Homo sapiens: one gene and its partner. The protein of the gene in region 1 interacts with the protein of each later gene in a pairwise test. Each region holds a gene or a part of one and is shown on either strand. Other genes may lie near its edges.

Region 1 (3,395 bases):
CAGTAGGCCTGGACAAGGCAACACAGGAACACATCCTGATGGTGCTTCGGTGCATATGACTGCAGCCTTACGAGGCCTTAGGAAAGAGCGTTTTGATAAACCTGCCACACGTCTGTGTCCCCGCTATACTGCTGTCTAGACACAGCCACTCCAGGTTCAGCTAATGTTTCATTAGGCCAGGTACAGATCCCCAGAACGAGGCCTTTATTATGGCCCATGGACAGAAAGCCCTCTAAAGGATAAAGAATGCAGAGTTGGATTTGGTGACCTTATAATCCAAAGTAAGCCGTGAAGTAAAAGTTCTTGTTCATGTTGGTTCACCAAGAACATCCTGAGATGTTGTAATCTTGCACATCACATCCCATTACTCCTAACTCCAGTGGGTTGTCCCAATTACATGAGATTCATTATCTAGAATGAGACTTGAAATAAATGAACATTTGGAATTGGGGAAGCTGTCTTAAAGTGGCACTGCTTAAAGTGGCTTTATGATCATGATATCTGGCCTTTGTCATCTCTAGGGATTTTGGTTTGGGATCAGGTTGCCCATCCCCCAACCAGGCCTCTTAAATTTGTCAGCTTTCATTAACATCTTGTGTTTCTAGTGGCTGAAAGATACCTAGTCAGTTAGGTCTGCATCTAGCTGGGGCCACACCATCTATAGGATCCTGCCATTTTCCAAGGGCCGTACCCTGCTACCATTTGACACCTCTGTTTAAAGACACTGATTGCACCTTCATTTTTTTTTTATTGACTACCCCATTTCTCTCTATTAGACCTTCTTGGGATCTCACTATCTGCTGGAATTGTACTAGGGTTGGGCTTGATCCCTGTCTAATTAGTGACTCTTCCTCTTCTTTGGGATTTTATCTTATATCCTGCATCTCCCTGCCTCTTCTCCCCCGCTCCCCCAATATGGCATATGGGTGGCTCTGTGCTACAGTGAATTCTGATTATCTCTTAGGAAATAGTTTAGGTAAGGATTAAAATATAAATAAAATAGATAAGAAATCAAATAAAATCAAAATTATAAAGTAAAACAGGATTTTTCAGGGTTAGTGCCAAGTTGTTTGCCCTTACCATTCTCCCTGGCATCTGGGGGTTGGAGCAGAGACAGTGGGCCACAATTACAGGCCTAGTCTCTGCCCACCACAGGATGGTGTAGTGGAATGAACACATGCTGCAAACACATGGAGCCAAGACTTCTGTTGTGTCCCTCTTTCCTGGCCCTGGCCCTTGTGCCTGTTCCTAACAGGGAAGCTGCAGTTAGGGAGGTAGCATTGTGTTGCAGTAATACGTGGGTGGCAGGTTCCACGGTGGAAGGCTGTGGTTAGACAGAGGGCATGCTCAAATATGACCTGGGTTAGGCTTTCCAGCTCTTAGACTGGTTCCCCAGAGTCATTTGGGAAAAATATTTTGCTTTATTTGAAAGACCTGATTCTTCAATCCCAGAGAGAACAAATATGTTTTCAGAGTACTTGATAATTCTGAAGTGTCCGAATGTGACCTTTGGGTCATCAAATTGCACTCAAACCCATTTGAATGGAAGGCAATATTAGTTGAGTGCCAAGAATACCATGAATATTCATTAGTTCTCTCATCATCATGATGATTAATACCCTTAAAGCTATAAATGTCTGAATTCCTTTATGGACAGTTGATCTTGAGAGTGGTTTGTCTACATGAGAAATTAATTTTTGACATGATAGTTAACATCAGTATTGGCTTTTTTTGAAATTTGTTTATCAGAAAAGAAATTGTGTCTACCAAATAAGAGCTTATGTGTATTTAGCTCAGATGACATCCCTGAATTATTTGCTATTTGACATCCCTGAAACACACACACACACACACACACACACACACACACACTCTTACACGATACTTACTTTGGTGTAGACCCAACCAATCCAAAGTGTTTATTTAAGGGGCAGGAGCTGCATAGGAGAAGAACGTGTGTTTCAGAAGACTCAGCCTATCTTTAAACATCTTCGTGGAATGATCTCAGGCAAACTACTTATGATATCCCAAGTTTTGCAAAACAAGAGTGGTATATTAACCTCTTTCACCAGTGTACTATTATGATGAATGGGAACTGTGTTCATAATTAGTTTATAAACTGTCAGAGTGCTTTAAAAATATGAGGAATATATACCCATGTGTACGTATCTACATCTTTGACATAATTATACAAATTATAAATTTATTTCTTCATCTTTATGCAGAATTTTAATTTTGCATTGTACTTTAGATGTATCCATTGTACATTAAAACAGGTGTTCAGTTTAGGAAACAGGCTAAAGCTTCATTTAGGACACAGATGTCTTTAGAATATGATGTGTTTTTTGTTTACTTCTTGTTTCCTTATAGGCCAACCGAGCGATAAGTACCGTTGAGTTTGTGACAGCTGCTGTTGGTGTCTTCTCATTCCTGGGCTTGTTTCCAAAAGGACAAAGAGCAAAATACTATTAACAATTTACCAAAGAGATATTGATATTGAAGGAATTTGGGAGGAGGAAAAGAAACCTGGGGTGAATACTTATTTTCAGTGCATCATTACTGTTCCAGATTCCTATGATGGATGGCAGACTCTTTAATAAATTGCTTACTGATATTATCTTATCATTGAGCCAATGAAATTTTTTTCCCCTGCTAGCATAGATGTACTGTGGCAGCTTGAACGGAGAAGCAGTAGTCTTTTGAGTGAGCCAGCAGAAGATCTTAACAAAATCTCATCACATTTTATTTCTACTATAAATATTATTTTCCTTTTCCCCAAGGGTGGCCATTTTGCCAGAGGCATGAAAGACTATTTATATATGGTTTTGAAAGAAATTTTAAGAACCCCAGATTGTTAAGAGTTGACATCCAAATTCATGTTTCTTTTCTTGTTGGAAAAGAAACTGGGAAATTTAGCATTTTGGTTAGGCAGTTTGAGGGACTCTAATTTACAAGCCTTTTGGGGAATGCACCCTCATCTTCTTCCTGCCTGTGTAGATGAGGGTGGATGGGAAGAGGAGAGGCTGTTTGCTCCAGGGTTTCAGTTCCGGTGATTTGTGTGGAATCTACTTGCTTGTCAGGAGGACATGACAAGTAAGAGTGGGCTGTTATTTCTACAGTGTTACATATTATTCCCTTTGGATTTTGAAGTGTTTCAGGGATTTGACCTTTTAACCTTGAGAAGCAATCATTAAATGTTTGTTTAAAATGCCATATTTGGAAAACAATATCTCATATTTTTAAGACTTTTTTACAAGCCAAGGAATGTCATAATTTTATTCTCTCATTTTATTATGTGTTGAATTAAAGACACTGCTTTTTATGCTGCTCCAGTGAAATTCTTGGTTGCAGCAGGTGGAGAAAGGGGGAGTGCAGCTCTCTCTAACCTAGGATTA
Region 2 (3,828 bases), on another chromosome or scaffold:
CTATATTTTCACATTTTTTAACTCTCATTTTCATGTTAGTGTGTAGGTGGCTTTGGTGTTTTTCAGACCCAAGTTACGTTCATATATGCCCCTCCTGCTTTCCTTTGCATCTGGTGTATACCTGAACATATTTAATTCTGTATTATTTTTTGCTTGCAGATGTCAAATTAGTCTATGTAACTCAAAGGCTTAGGTTTATGCCTTTCCAGTCAAGCTGCTGTTATGGAAAACAAATACCCAAGCAATATGAACTTACGGATATGGAGGAAGGGAGACATATTTGGGACCAAGGCTCATTAGTAGGTTAGGGTCTGCTGTACCTACCCGTCTGCCAACATCTATCTGCCAATATTCCCAGACTTTCCTGTTTCTAAATGCTGATTTAGATAAATGCTTTTCTAACCAAAATGAAGCAGTATGGTATTTAAGTCAACCATGGAAATAAGCATTAACATATGTGCCCCCACCTGAAAGACATCAGGTTAGGTTCGATTTGAATCAGGCAGGAGGCCAGATGCAATCAAGTCCCTGAAGTCTGGAACTCCACCAGAAGAAGAGATCAGGCTCCCCTGCCCCAGGATCCTCCAGACTGCAGAAGATCTAGGGAGGTCAGAATAGAGCAGGGCTCCCACATCTTTGATAAAATGTGATTTTGTAAACTAGAAGAAAGGGGGAAATGGCAAAAGCAGGCCTTTCTCTAAAAGGTCTAATAAACGGGATGATGCCGGGGTACTTTCCAGGCCTCCCTCATGCCATCTCTATCTCTACGATTACATCACAAGCCCCAGAACACCCTGGCTCTACACGCAAGGCAGGCCACACACTGGACTGCTTGCATAGACCTAGAGCAGTTCAGTGGCTCAGTGAGGACTTGCTATCCCAACTGGACCAAGTTGGAAGCCCTACATGGTATGTGAGATCACAGAATTGGTATTTGATACCCCTGGAAATGGTTGCATCGTCATTTCACCAATACAGCTACACTTTCCTCTAAGGCCTGTGGGTTTGACATTGATCCTTATATGTTTATTTGTTCATGGGCTTGTTAGAAAGCTTTTAGATTGAGATTTAGGCAAAAAAGAAAGTGAACTTGGTTTTTAGCCGTAAATTTCTCTAGACCATTCTTAGGTCAAACTAACCAGCTTCCTTCTGCAGAAATTGTTCAGTGCTACATGGGCATGTGAGAACAAATTTTGCGTGCTCAGTGCTAAGACACTTTCTCCCACCAACTCTACCTTTCTCATAACAAGATCTTAAAAGATGATTTCATTCCCTCAGTCCTTAGGTGCTGTCCTGTCCTCAGGTGCTGATGTCTAATCACCACACTGTTTGGTTCAGTCACCTGCTATCATCCCTCCAGTTTAGGGGTTCTGTCTCTTTAATCAGCAGGCAAAAAATTCAGACTCAGGCTTTTGACCCTGCAAAATGGAGAAGCATGTACTGCTTTTGAATTTTTAAAAAAAAAAAAAAACAGTTAGAAATTTGACACTAAGACATCTAAGCAACTGGGTGGAGATCTGAAGTAGCAAGTGAAAATGATACCATTAATGATATTGATGATGGATGTAAAGGCAATTGCAAACAATTGGTTTTTTGTTCTTAACTCCAGTCAAACACTTACCAAAACAACTAAACTGGTTGGACTTCAACAATCTAAATGAAATCTTGAAGCATGAATGTATTTCCCATGCAGTATGGAAAGGAAGAGAGAGAGAAAGTAGTTAAAAAACAATCTCCATTCCTACCACACACCTTTGGCTTGCATTGTTCACCACCTTTTAAAGTAATGCCTGATGTGTTATATGCTGGTCCTCCAGAAATTCTAAACTTTCCCCAGAAGTGACCTTTGTTCTCCCAGTGCCTCACAACACTCTTAAATACCAAAGAGCTTCAGGGGGCAAGGACAAGAATTTTCTAAAGGAAACCCTTCTCCACTTGCACTGGACAGGCTGTCAAGACCCAGCAAGACACTTTGTCATGTTATCTCACTCCACATTCGCTTTCTCTCCTTGTAGCTACCTCATCCCTGAACTCCCAGCTCCAGCAGCTCCAGCTCCAGCTCCAGCAGCAGCAGCAGCAGCAGCAGCAGCAGCCTCCCCCGTCAACCAACCAGCACCCGCAACCAGCCCCACAGGCGCCCTCGCAGTCCCAGCAGCAGCCGCTGCAGCCCACCCCACCCCAGCAGCCACCACCCGCCTCTCAGCAGCCGCCAGCTCCTACATCTCAGCTGCAACAGGCGCCTCAGCCCCAGCAGCACCAACCCCACTCCCACTCCCAGAACCAGAACCAACCATCTCCAACCCAGCAGAGCTCCAGCCCCCCGCAGAAACCTAGTCAGTCTCCAGGACATGGCCTGCCTTCACCGCTCACGCCACCCAATCCTCTACAGGTATGCTCCCCGTGCTTCCCGTCTGCCCCTAGGAGCACCAAGGACCTTTCCATGGGGTGGTGCCATCCCCAAAGGCAGAGGGACCACACAAAACTTAGCATCCAGTTCTGCAGCATCTAATTCAAATTGATCTCTTAGACATAGGGAAGAAGAAGCAACTAGAAGGCAACTGGGGATGCATGTAAACGAAACAAATAGAAGCCCATTTCTGTTGCCCTCCAAAGGATAAATGTTATCTGTTTCCTTCTGTGAGAGGCCAGCACTATAAGTGCATTTGGAGCCTGTAATAATTCCATTTTATGATACTTTTTGAAGGCAGCAAAGATAGCATCCAATTAAAATTATTACTAGCACAGTTTTGTAGCCCCATGGAGAACTGCATCTACTGTCCATGAGGCATGGTGGTTATTTCTCTATATTATGAATACAACAGTGTCTCACCTTAAGTACTTTGTGCTCTTTTGTTTCTATTTTTCTAAAGACTCTCTGGGGTTAGGAGGGCAAAGAAATTTAGCCCCAGTCTTATGTCCCAGATTCCAACCATTACTCCACAGACTAACAAGTACTCTAAATTCATGCCAAGAGCCTCAACCAATATGCATCTTTATAAAGGAATAAAACTTCTATAGGTTTACTTTATTACTGTGAGGCTGAGAGCTTCATAAATAGATATTTCAGGCTAACCATGAGAGCTCATCTATAACCTACCTATTGAGAAGGAATGGATAGGTGCATTCATATATATATATATATATATATGACTTTAAACTTCAGAAAACCATTTTTAACTTAGGTGTCTTTAAAATAAATTAGCTTCAAAACATAATGACTGTGATGTCATCATATCAGATCCAGAAATTAATAACTCAGCCAAGCCATCCATTCTTTGACTTGCACAATGACATTTTTCCCTGTGAGATTTCAGACAATCTCGTGTATTTGTAGTACTGTGACAAAGTTAAACAGAGTGAGCAGCCTGTGGACCTGTTTCAAGTGCCATCTCATCCCCTTGCCATAGTGGTGGGTATAAACCTCAGTCAGTCCGGCTCTCCCCAGCCTGAGAATGACAGTAGCGATGGTATCCTTGGCTCCTAAATAGAAAAGTATACAAAATAAAGACAGGTTGGTACACGGACAGAAAGGCAGGTGGATTAGAGACTTGGTATTTTAGAACTTAGTTTGTTGTCCCATAGCTTTGTCTCTTCCAATTTGGATTCTCAGTGGTGTGGCCCAAAGCATTCCTAGAAATGAACACATTTGGGAGAGATGAGTCATTGTGTTTTTCTGGGCTCTTGGGCCAGGGCTACTTTCAATTTGAACATTTTCATGAGTGGAGTTTCAAGATGTATTTATACAATTCTTACGATGGTGAGACAACGTAACACCTTTGACCTAGGACTAAAATGAACATGGTCCAAAAACGTCTTCATTGTCCACTT

Evidence for each region.
Region 2: the proteins of PLAAT1 (region 1) and POU6F2 interact in binary tests that used the Homo sapiens proteins (3 or more experiments, as listed by UniProt).

The regions. Positions count from the first base shown.
Region 1 is NC_000003.12:193,268,234-193,271,628, forward strand, and holds the end of PLAAT1 (phospholipase A and acyltransferase 1), read left to right. Parts: intron 1-2,370; coding exon 2,371-2,472; 3' UTR 2,473-2,622; downstream 2,623-3,395. UniProt on the Homo sapiens protein: Exhibits both phospholipase A1/2 and acyltransferase activities. Shows phospholipase A1 (PLA1) and A2 (PLA2) activity, catalyzing the calcium-independent release of fatty acids from the sn-1 or sn-2 position of glycerophospholipids.
Region 2 is NC_000007.14:39,337,627-39,341,454, forward strand, and holds part of POU6F2 (POU domain, class 6, transcription factor 2), read left to right. Parts: exon of another isoform or gene 1-1,494; intron 1,495-2,015; coding exon 2,016-2,389; intron 2,390-3,828. UniProt on the Homo sapiens protein: Probable transcription factor likely to be involved in early steps in the differentiation of amacrine and ganglion cells. Recognizes and binds to the DNA sequence 5'-ATGCAAAT-3'. Isoform 1 does not bind DNA.